Linked DNA regions of Homo sapiens. The protein of the gene in region 3 purifies or fractionates together with the protein of the main gene of each other region. This does not show direct contact. Each region holds a gene or a part of one and is shown on either strand. Other genes may lie near its edges.

Region 1 (4,396 bases), on a different chromosome or scaffold from region 3:
CTCAAGGCATCATGATAGAAGGCTCATGCCCTCATGGGACAGCCTAGCCTTCGTGGTAGACTCTCATGCAGGGGTGGTTCTTACGATGAGGCCTCCATAGACTACCCGCTCCCCACCACCTCCACAGAGGCAAGAGGAGTGAGAGTGGAGGCTGGTGCGGCCAGTAGGTGAGGCAGGAGAGCAAGTGGGGAAAGGTGGGGTGGGTCCTGGTGTCTGGGGTATCCCCCAAAGCCTGGTATGCCAGGCCAGCCCCTCTTCTGGAGTAAATGGTTCTAGGTGTTTCTATCCAGGCTTGGGTATTCCTGGCATTTATGTGGAGTGGAGATTCTGTTGCCCTTCTTCTGGGAGAGATTCTTTCCCTTGGATGGGCTTGACCAGGTGGGGGCCCCTGGTGTGGCATCCATACACTGACCCTGCCACCTTGATGGTGCTGGGAAGCCCAGAGCTCCCTGAGCATGCCCTCCCTTCTGCACCCTCCTGCCACCGGCTGTTCCTCTGGCAGCTTCTGCTCATGGAGGGGTGGAGGTGGCCTTCATCCCAGTGCAGACTTTCTGGTGGGGGGGTCTCTGAATTCTGCCTCCAAGAGCTGGCTTCAGAGACCCCACTGGTCCCTCTCCAGCCTGCCTCCTGGAGATCCTGGCGCTTGGAGGGTGTTGTTGAGATATAAATATCATGTTACGTAAAGCCTTGGCTGTTTCCCCCTAAGTGTGCCTGGGAACACGTATCCAGACTCCCCGGCACATCGGCACATCAGCTGGGCTGGCATCTGAGGGACTGCGTGCACCCTGTGGGCCTTGTTGAGGGCCGTTTCGTGTTGGGTGTGTTTACCAACCCAGTAGTGGTTCTTACAGCCTTTCAGTGCTAAGATGACGGTTGGTTTTGAATCTGCCTTTATGTTGGTGGCAATTCTGACTTGGCAGGGTCATGGTTATTTTAGCCCCACTGGTTTTCCTCATTGGGCCTCTGGTAATGGGAAGAAAGACACTGGGGTTTTCCTCAGAAGGCACCCTAGGAGGCTGTGATACAGCTGATCCATGCATTGGCTGTGGAGTTGCTCTGTCCCCACGTAGACTGCCCAGGTGTGCCCCCAGCTTCACCTAGAACATGCTCTTGACCTTGAGGGAGAGTTGTGTAACCTGCTGGGGCTTCTGGATACCCAGCTTAAGCACCTGCTCACCAACCACTTTCTGAGTCCTGCTCGGTGCCAGGGACTTACCACCCCTGCCTGATGGAGTTCATGGTCTCATGGGAGATCCAGATGTGAGTCAGATAGTTGCATGTGAATGTGAAGAGTGAACCGATGGGAGGCTTGTGCTGCTTTGGAAGGACAAATGAAGGGGGTGGCCCTAATTGGGAGGCCAGGGGAGGCTTCCTGGAGAAGGCAGCTTCCAGTAATGAGCTTTAAGGTCAGGGAAAGGGAAGGGCAAGAGTCTCCCAGGCCCATTGGAAACAAGGGGTAAAAAAGTTCTACGGCTGGGGGAATCGACAGAGCTGGGGTGGCCGGCTCTTGGAGAGTGAGGGACACCAGAAAAGATGGTGGGGTTAGCCTGAGATGGTAGGGAAAAGAGAGTCATGGACAGGGCCAAGCTGTTGAGTGGGTGAAGTGGCAGGACCTTGAGTTGCATGGAACACAGGGGGCAAAGGAGAGGAACATCCATGTTGGCATTGGATGGCTCACTCTGCAAAGACCTCATGTGCTTAACTTAGTAGCATCCGCACAGTACCTCTTACACATAGGTGCTATGGTACAGATGGAGAAACTGAGGCTCAATGTGGTTAAGATGCTTGCTCAGGATGGATGTGGTGGCTCACGGCTGTAATCTCAGCACCTTGAGAGGCCGAGGCAGGTGGATCATCTGAGGTCAGGAGTTTGAGACCAGCCTGGTTAACATGGTGAAACCCCATCTCTACTAAAAATACAAAAATCAGCTGGACGTAGTGGCACACCTGTAGTCTCAGCTACTCAGGAGGCTGAGGCAGGAGAATCTCTTGAACCCAGGAGACGGAGGCTGCAGTGAGCTGAGGTCGCACCACTGCACTCCAGTCTGGGCGACAGAGTGAGACTCTGTCTCTCAAAAAACGTCATGGGGTGAGCCCAGGCAGGAGGCTTGGGGTCCGAATGCAGGCCTGACTGCTTCCTAAGAGTGTCTTAGCTTTCTGCTCGTCTGCCCCCACACACGTCCTTCCTGTGTGGCAGTGGCATTGTATTGACATTTGAAGGGTTTTGTTTTCCATTGGTTTCTTTAAAGAAAGAGTATATCGGGCAGACCAAAGGCTATGTTTGTATGTTTGAGTACTCTATTCTGCTCCAGCTTGACCGCTTGGTGCTGTGGGAGAGGATGGAGGAATCGTCTGCTGCCTCTGGTTTTTGCATCTGTTTCTGTCCGCCTGTCTTCCACTGCCTGCCCTTGGCTCTGAACAGGCCTTTTCCTGTTCTTCGATTGTGCCCCTCTCCTGGGAAATCCTTGTTGGGTTCCCCACAGCTCTTCTGAGCAATGACCATCCTGACCCAGCCCCATCAGGCCTGTGCTGAGCCTCGATTGGCCCTGATTGCCCGTCTTGGGCTTCAGCTGTGCTCCCTGTGCCTCCTAGCCAGCACCTGACTGATGTCCTTCCCCCAGTGCACAGTGCAGCAGTGAACGGGCTCTCTTTCCACCCGTCGGGAAACTACCTGATCACAGCCTCCAGTGACTCAACCCTGAAGATCCTGGACCTGATGGAGGGCCGGCTGCTCTACACACTCCACGGGCATCAGGTGAGAGGTGTCGGCCAGGTGCTGAGTGGTGTGGAGTGGTGGTACCTTCACTGTCTGGGCAGTGGGCAAGATGCAGAAACAGGCTTGTCACCCACACAGCCTGCAGGGAGATGGATGGAGGCATTTCCATGTGACCTGGGCAGATTGCTGGGCCTGGGACTGGTGCAGCTGAGAAGGGTATATAAGAGTTGAATTGGGCAAGGGTTGGGGGCTGCATCTGGGCATGGTTAGCAAGCCGCCCCTTAGGGGCCTGAATGGAATCTGTCCCCTAATGGCCTCAGCCATCCCTTGGTCCAGAGGTTGAGTTGAGCCTTGGAACCCATGCTCTGAGTTGACATCAGGGTTTCCTGGAGGCCCTCGGACTGGCAGACATCAGTGTGTCTAGAGACTGAGGCAACCTCAGGTGTCTTGCAGAGGCTGGGACAAAGAAGGGAAGTCTTCTTCATGTTTGTCGTTTGAGAATTCCTGGAATGGAATCAAGGAAGCAAAGGCCTCCTTTCTGAATGAGCTTCAAAGCAGCCGGTTCCCTGGTCTCCCTGGGTGGGCTGGGTCCCTGGGGGCCGGCTGTGGGAAGTAGGCCACATGCAGTTCTCCCCAGGAACTGGCCTGGGTCCGGGCCTTTCACATCTAGTACTTCCACTAGGAAGTAGTGTCCGAGCCCTCCTGATCAGAGCGGTCGTCAGAATGTCTCCTGTTGGGGCGTAGTCACCATGCCCACTTGAGATGGGAGGTCTGGAGTCCATTGAATTCAAGTCTGTCTCTAATCTGCCTGCCATGCTGAGGGAGGCCCTGGGGGTGCTTATGTGTCTTGGACTATCAGCTAAGTCTGAGGTGTCTAGCCTGGTGTTTTCTGAGCTGTTGTTTGGGTTTCCACTGCCATCTGAGTTAGGGTACCTGGGGGCCATTTGGCTATGACTAGGGGATGGGGACATAGGCCTTTTCTTCTACTTCCTCAAGGTCTGGAGGCTGCTTGCTGCCCCCAGCCTTGTTGTGACCCCTTGCCTTCCCTGTCAGAGACATATCCAGTGTGCAGGACTAGTGGGCCTGTTCTCCCTGGGCCAGCACATCCAGAGGGGGTGGCTGCTGGCCCTGGTGTAAGCCTGTTCACAAGCCAAGCCCCTGGACAAGCAAGTTATACAGATTCATGTGTAACCGTTTGGGATCTTATGCCCAGGAGGGCATTTGAAAATCATGTGAATGCTGCTACCGCTCCTGCTCCCCTAAAAAAAACAAAACAAAACTCAGAAACAGTTTGAAACAGATGCCTATCAAGTGATCACCTCTTTTTGTGAGTGTTCTTTAAACAGCTAACTCACGCTTAGCCTGAAAACACTTGAATGTGGGATCTAAAATGTCATTCCCGGTGTTCTGGCATCGCATCTGGCACATAAACGAAAGCTATTGACATTGTTCTCTCCGGGAAGTGAAGCAAGGACCATGGCGCATTGCCTTGTGTGGTCACTTGTCTGCTATTAAATCTAGAGATATGGGAACCAGGCCAAGGGACAGCTGATGGTTTGGGGTGTGGATAGGGCTGGGTCATTTCTTCTTCAGGGCACCAGGCTCACAATGCCCAGAGGAAAGGAGAAGAAGAGAAACGAACCAACGACCTCTGTTCATTTTGCCATCTGTCTGTTTGTT
Region 2 (4,396 bases), on a different chromosome or scaffold from region 3:
TTAACAGGAAAGAACTGACTTCCTCTGGTGGGCCAACAAAGTTTGAAATCCATATAGTGGCTCAGTTCGATAATCATAATTCTCAGGTCTGGCGAGTGAGTTGGAATATAACAGGAACGGTGCTAGCATCTTCAGGAGATGATGGGTGTGTAAGATTGTGGAAAGGTAAGAGTTCAGTGAAGGGGTAATTGTTGGTTTATATTTCTGCTCTGCAATTTTTACTTAAAATGTAAACTCTGAAATATTTTTTGAAAATGGTCTTTTACAGTTACTTTTAATGTCATATTAATTTATGTTATTTTGAACATCAGTTTACCTAGTTCATAGAAGTTAATGACTGAATTGTTTTTTAAGTTATGTGGAACAGAGCAGTTTTCAAAACTAAAGTAATTACAACAGAATATGCAATATCTCCAATAAAAAGATACCAGTTGTCATATATGTACCTTACATGACTGCTCTACAAACTCAGGCTAGGACTGTAGTGGCTCCTTTTTTATCAAATAAATTGCTTTAGACAATCCATCCTTAATAGGAGAAAATCCAGTATCTTCCCTGCTTCTTCTCTGCAGCTCCCATAAGTTAAGAGCCTTGGGGGCCCTGATTGTAAGTTTCTTCTAAGTGCCAGGCTGAGTGAGAAGGTCTGGTCAGTTGACACTGACTGTGGTCTCTGTAGCTTGGTTCTGCACTTCTCCTTGGATGATTATCCATTAGGCAGAGATGTCTGTGATTTGTGCACCACCATAGAATGGTGTCCCATACTTAGCATTCAGAATTATAGCTATCTTTGTTTATTTGCCATTTAGCAGTTATTGTTTCCCAAAGTGCAGTTTGGGTAAGCTTGAGGGCCTCCCATGTTCAATTTTGGGCTTTGGTAAAACCAGCCCAGACCTTCCTTTCCTCAGTGTAATTTGATTTTAGGGGCTTTGCTGTCCTTTTCTGCCTTTAGGCTTTATTCAGGACCACCTTGCCATGCTCCCCAGCAGGGTGCCTAACTTGATTTTCTTGGGCTCATTGTCTTCAGAGACCAATTTTTCATTCAAACTAATAAGGCCATTTTGGATAAGCCACTGAAGCTCCAAAGGTTTTGTTACCTACATCCATTTCAGAAGACATGATAGGTACCCTTATAACTTATACTTGCATAATTAAGAAGACAACTTCATTACCTTACATACATATGTAAGTGAAATTCATTATAATGAAGACTTTAATATTATAATGAAGATTTTAATATTAACTTCATAATGTGGTAGCTCAGAGAATTGTCTTTGCTAGTATCTGTAAGATGGGTGGTGAAAGCTTTATATTTTTAAAATTAGTGATACTTTGAAAACTTCTAAAAAGTTGTTAAAACTGAGATAATATGTCTTTCATTTAAAAAGTGTCTTTAATGTTTATCCTGAAAGAAATGTAGCTCATAGCCTCTGTCTCGTTTCTTTAATTGTAGTTTAAGGACATGGGTACAGATTTGTGCCCTTAGGCATTGGTATTAATCATGTTAATGTATTTGATTATTTTCCTTTCAGCTAATTATATGGACAATTGGAAGTGTACTGGTATTTTGAAAGGTAATGGGAGCCCAGTCAATGGGAGTTCTCAGCAGGGAACCTCAAATCCTTCCCTAGGTTCAACTATTCCAAGTCTTCAGAATTCATTAAATGGATCTTCTGCTGGCAGGTAGGCTGCTTCATGGGAAAACTGGAAATCATCTTTGTTTTAAATCATTCTGGTAGCCATACTTAAGGTGGATTATTTCATGGATTATAAGATGGAGTGGAAATGTTCACATGTGCTTGTATTAGCATTTAAGAATTCATTTTGTTAGCTATGTATTTGGCTTACTTGGTCATAATATTTGCAGGTAGGTTATGAAGTCATTACATTATATTCTGAAGCTTTAGTGGTCTATTGGTAGAAATGTTTACAGGTTTAAGATTCAACTTTGCTTCCGCAACAGTGAGAGGAAGGTTATCTGGTTTAATGGTGAGAGTTTTAGTCCAAATGAACATTAGTGTTTTTTAGTGCTTGTAGTGTGGTCTTTGCATTAGGTCAAACTGAAATTTTAAATAAAATACATTTCTTAAGGCTTTCTAGAAGAGGGTACATTAAGTTATTTGGCTTTTGTGTTTAAAACTTTAATAGAAATAAGAGGAAATAATAAAACACGAGATTGATTTTTAGAATATTTAGCATATGTTACATTCTTGTATATCATAATAAGGAATATTTGATGTCATCTAGAGTCTGTTTCCATGTTCAAATTTTAAATATGTGAATTTGTAAGATAAAATTATTTTAATATGCCTTTGTGAATAATTTGGAATAGAATTCAGGAAACGTCAAAACACAGCCTAATGAATTGTCCTGTGGTTATATCCTCTTGTTATCCTATATAAAAGAAGAAAATTGTATTTAAAATTTCAACTATTTTTATATTGTTATGTTTTCATAAAGAAGTTCTGCTTTTGATTTTGAGGTTTTAAGTACATGCATCAAAACAATTTCAGGTTACCGTGGAAGATACCAGATTATAAAGATTATTTCATGAAACAAATAATATTAGAGTTGATTTTTTAAAGTCTGGTTTTTGGTCACTGCCTGTACTGCATATTTTCTTTTGTAAATAGCTTCTATTTTTTGATCTGTATTCTTATTGTGCCAATAACCATCTGTGTTAGATCTGTGATGCATTTTCCCTTTTCCATTTGTATTATGTCCTTTAACAGAAAGCACAGCTGAGTACAAGCTAACTGGAGTAACTTTGCTGTTTTGCTGCTTGTTGCATGCACACAGGAATGGAAAGCGAGCTCCTTTTCCCCTTCCCCAGCGCCGTTTGACCTCTCCCAAGATACACCAGCAGCCTGCTTACTACTAAACGCAATCCAAAAGGCCTTTAAAAATACAGTGTATATTTTTTGTACTAGTCAGTTTATTGACACTATTTGAAACTTTTGAAATATAAACGGAGAGGCTTTCTGTTGAGACATTGTCACCAAAACAATTTTTTGAAATGTTCCTGAAACTAATTTGGGTTTAAAGATTAAAAGGGTTGTTACCATTCTTATCTGAGTAGTTGGGAGGAGGGGAATACCACTTTAGTTCATTTGGAAAATATAGACATATTTCTTTTGCTTTCTTAAAACAGCTTAAAATGATGAACTTTTATAATTTTAATTTGAAGATTGAATAAATATTTTTTATAAAGATTGTTTTGAGTGCTGATTTGTTTACTTTTTGTAGATTTGCTTTATCCATGATATTCAGTACAACTCTGTCATTTCTTTGTAATATTTAAAAAATATTAGTAAAGGAGTGAATTAATAAAGTAGTAATAGTAAAATGAAAGGAACTTGACTGTACAGTTTGTAGCCAGGTTAAGCATTTGGTATTGTTTCATTTACAATTTGGGACTAAGATGGAAACACTTTTTTTATAAGTTTTTAATTCATAGTCACTAAAGAGATAAATGTTTCTTATATACATTTGTGTATTTTTATGGTGTTATTTATTCCATGGCTTAGCTTCCTTCAAATCAAAATTTGGACACACACTATTAAGAGAAGCCATTAAAATTTTACTAAAATTGTGCATGTAAATTAATTGTCAGCATTCCATGTCTCAAGATTTTCTTAATTTAGTTCGCTGTTTAAATTAATTCATGTCCTGTAAAGTTCTGACCTTGATAACAAAGCTATAAATATTTAAGTTTGCTAATATGCGTAAGTATTATCGGTAAGTTACAAGATGGAAGAAGAATAACAGTAGGGCACAGTCATTCTGTGAATCCTTTTACTTATCAAAATTTGGTAGCTATTCTAAGGCTTTTGCAGAAAAATAAGTGTTCAATGTTTGTAGTTCTTCAAAAGCATGTTGCAGTAGCCAGCCATACTATGTGTATTCCCAGTATCATGTACGCACTAAAAAAAATGTGTGCTTGCTGCTGCTGTGAGTGAACCATTGCTTAAGATAAAAAACTTAACTAGATCTGTAAATGTACAGAATAGCATCAGATGTTTCTGAGAGATTAGAAAATGTTTTGAATTTATAAAATTAATGTTTTTCTTTGTAACATTTATATATATTTTTTAACATTTTAAGTTTAACAGATTGTATTCCTTTCAAGTTTCTATACTTGCTTAAGCAATCTTGATTTGAGTAAGGGTCTTGATTTGTGCTATTATGTTCTGTTAGTTTTGGCATGAATATACTAAAGCTTTTTTTTTTTTTTCTAGCATGTGTTTTCTCCTCTTTGGTTCTCTTTGTATTTACTACTTTTCTCTTTTTCTTGTGTTTTTTTTTTCCTGTTTTTGTTTTGTTTGGTGTTTTGTTCCTGTCTTCATTGTTTCAGGTATTTCTTTACCCCTCTGGATTCCCCACGGGCTGGATCGAGATG
Region 3 (2,922 bases):
CCTAGTGAGAGCCTTGGTGAGGTCTGCTGGAGGCACACTGGGGACACAGGCAAGCATCAGGTGGTCCCAACTTCCCACCCCCCTCCCATAAACGGCACTTGGCTCAGTCTCCCTCTGCCCACCTTGTCACCATGGAGCTGTGGCATTCAAGCATCCAAATGCCCTGCTTCTGTCAGGCCTGCCCCGTCGGGTGCTTTGTTTACTTGTCAGGTTGGGCAGATGGTCTCAAGCCCTGGTTGGTGGGTGGGTGAGTGAGGAGACAGGTTAGACAGGGGAAGGTCCCAGGACATGTCTTCCCTCTCTGGGCTGACCTGAGGCAGTGGAGGCTCTCAGGTGTGGGATGGGGTTTTCAGGCTGGGATGTTCTGTACCGTAGAGGATAGGCCTTCCTATTACTTATCGGAGCACTACGGGAGGGCAGGTCCCTCCCCAGGGTGTTTAACACTGGAGGCTGCAGGGTCAGGAGGAGAATCGTGGGGCCAGGAGGGCAGAGGCACACTCCATCTTCGTGCTCCTCACAGGCCCTGCCTCCCTGCCTGCTAAGGACACAGGGAAGGGGGTCCCCACCTCAGTGCCTGCCTCCCTTCCCTGTGCCTGTGTACCTGGCAGTCACAGCCACCTGGCGTGTCCCAGAAACCAACCGGCTGACCTCATCTCCTGCCCGGCCCCACCTCCATTGGCTTTGGCTTTTGGCGTTTGTGCTGCCCGACCCTTTCTCCTGTCCGGATGCGCAGGGCAGGGCCTGAGCCGTCGAGCTGCACCCACAGCAGGCTGCCTTTGGTGACTCACCGGGTGAACGGGGGCATTGCGAGGCATCCCCTCCCTGGGTTTGGCTCCTGCCCACGGGGCTGACAGTAGAAATCACAGGCTGTGAGACAGCTGGAGCCCAGCTCTGCTTGAACCTATTTTAGGTCTCTGATCCCCGCTTCCTCTTTAGACTCCCCTAGAGCTCAGCCAGTGCTCAACCTGAGGCTGGGGGTCTCTGAGGAAGAGTGAGTTGGAGCTGAGGGGTCTGGGGCTGTCCCCTGAGAGAGGGGCCAGAGGCAGTGTCAAGAGCCGGGCAGTCTGATTGTGGCTCACCCTCCATCACTCCCAGGGGCCCCTGGCCCAGCAGCCGCAGCTCCCAACCACAATATCCTTTGGGGTTTGGCCTACGGAGCTGGGGCGGATGACCCCCAAATAGCCCTGGCAGATTCCCCCTAGACCCGCCCGCACCATGGTCAGGCATGCCCCTCCTCATCGCTGGGCACAGCCCAGAGGGTATAAACAGTGCTGGAGGCTGGCGGGGCAGGCCAGCTGAGTCCTGAGCAGCAGCCCAGCGCAGCCACCGAGACACCATGAGAGCCCTCACACTCCTCGCCCTATTGGCCCTGGCCGCACTTTGCATCGCTGGCCAGGCAGGTGAGTGCCCCCACCTCCCCTCAGGCCGCATTGCAGTGGGGGCTGAGAGGAGGAAGCACCATGGCCCACCTCTTCTCACCCCTTTGGCTGGCAGTCCCTTTGCAGTCTAACCACCTTGTTGCAGGCTCAATCCATTTGCCCCAGCTCTGCCCTTGCAGAGGGAGAGGAGGGAAGAGCAAGCTGCCCGAGACGCAGGGGAAGGAGGATGAGGGCCCTGGGGATGAGCTGGGGTGAACCAGGCTCCCTTTCCTTTGCAGGTGCGAAGCCCAGCGGTGCAGAGTCCAGCAAAGGTGCAGGTATGAGGATGGACCTGATGGGTTCCTGGACCCTCCCCTCTCACCCTGGTCCCTCAGTCTCATTCCCCCACTCCTGCCACCTCCTGTCTGGCCATCAGGAAGGCCAGCCTGCTCCCCACCTGATCCTCCCAAACCCAGAGCCACCTGATGCCTGCCCCTCTGCTCCACAGCCTTTGTGTCCAAGCAGGAGGGCAGCGAGGTAGTGAAGAGACCCAGGCGCTACCTGTATCAATGGCTGGGGTGAGAGAAAAGGCAGAGCTGGGCCAAGGCCCTGCCTCTCCGGGATGGTCTGTGGGGGAGCTGCAGCAGGGAGTGGCCTCTCTGGGTTGTGGTGGGGGTACAGGCAGCCTGCCCTGGTGGGCACCCTGGAGCCCCATGTGTAGGGAGAGGAGGGATGGGCATTTTGCACGGGGGCTGATGCCACCACGTCGGGTGTCTCAGAGCCCCAGTCCCCTACCCGGATCCCCTGGAGCCCAGGAGGGAGGTGTGTGAGCTCAATCCGGACTGTGACGAGTTGGCTGACCACATCGGCTTTCAGGAGGCCTATCGGCGCTTCTACGGCCCGGTCTAGGGTGTCGCTCTGCTGGCCTGGCCGGCAACCCCAGTTCTGCTCCTCTCCAGGCACCCTTCTTTCCTCTTCCCCTTGCCCTTGCCCTGACCTCCCAGCCCTATGGATGTGGGGTCCCCATCATCCCAGCTGCTCCCAAATAAACTCCAGAAGAGGAATCTGTGGGCCTGTGAGTCTGTCCAGTTTATGGAGTGTGGGAGGGAGGTGTCAGGAGGATGGGGGTGAGGAGGTTTTACCTTCTTCAGTTCTAGAAAGTGCTTTCCAAAGTTTTATTTTTTTATTTGTACCTGCCTTGTTCCAGAAAACGTTGAAGGTGGCTTCCCAAAGTCTAACTAGGGATACCCCCTCTAGCCTAGGACCCTCCTCCCCACACCTCAATCCACCAAACCATCCATAATGCACCCAGATAGGCCCACCCCCAAAAGCCTGGACACCTTGAGCACACAGTTATGACCAGGACAGACTCATCTCTATAGGCAAATAGCTGCTGGCAAACTGGCATTACCTGGTTTGTGGGGATGGGGGGGCAAGTGTGTGGCCTCTCGGCCTGGTTAGCAAGAAGCATTCAGGGTAGGCCTAGGTTAGTCGTGTTAGTTCTTCCCTGTGCTGAGCAGAGACTTCCAGAAGCACCAGAAACGGAGCCAGATGAAAGGACCCC

What was found.
Region 1: the proteins of BGLAP (region 3) and POC1A purify together in Homo sapiens (affinity purification with mass spectrometry; one large-scale study listed by BioGRID and IntAct). This does not show direct contact.
Region 2: the proteins of BGLAP (region 3) and SEH1L purify together in Homo sapiens (affinity purification with mass spectrometry; one large-scale study listed by BioGRID and IntAct). This does not show direct contact.

What each region holds. Positions count from the first base shown.
Region 1 is NC_000003.12:52,136,528-52,140,923, reverse strand, and holds part of POC1A (POC1 centriolar protein homolog A), read left to right. Parts: intron 1-2,621; coding exon 2,622-2,755; intron 2,756-4,396.
Region 2 is NC_000018.10:12,982,511-12,986,906, forward strand, and holds part of SEH1L (nucleoporin SEH1), read left to right. Parts: intron 1-7; coding exon 8-165; intron 166-1,529; coding exon 1,530-1,680; intron 1,681-2,729; coding exon of another isoform or gene 2,730-2,742; exon of another isoform or gene 2,743-4,351; coding exon 4,352-4,396. UniProt on the Homo sapiens protein: Component of the Nup107-160 subcomplex of the nuclear pore complex (NPC). The Nup107-160 subcomplex is required for the assembly of a functional NPC.
Region 3 is NC_000001.11:156,240,896-156,243,817, forward strand, and holds BGLAP (osteocalcin preproprotein), read left to right. Parts: upstream 1-1,288; 5' UTR 1,289-1,336; coding exon 1,337-1,400; intron 1,401-1,657; coding exon 1,658-1,696; intron 1,697-1,866; coding exon 1,867-1,936; intron 1,937-2,137; coding exon 2,138-2,267; 3' UTR 2,268-2,422; downstream 2,423-2,922. Other genes in the region: PMF1-BGLAP protein, read left to right, coding at 1,658-1,696, 1,867-1,936, 2,138-2,188. UniProt on the Homo sapiens protein: Bone protein that constitutes 1-2% of the total bone protein, and which acts as a negative regulator of bone formation. Functions to limit bone formation without impairing bone resorption or mineralization. It binds strongly to apatite and calcium.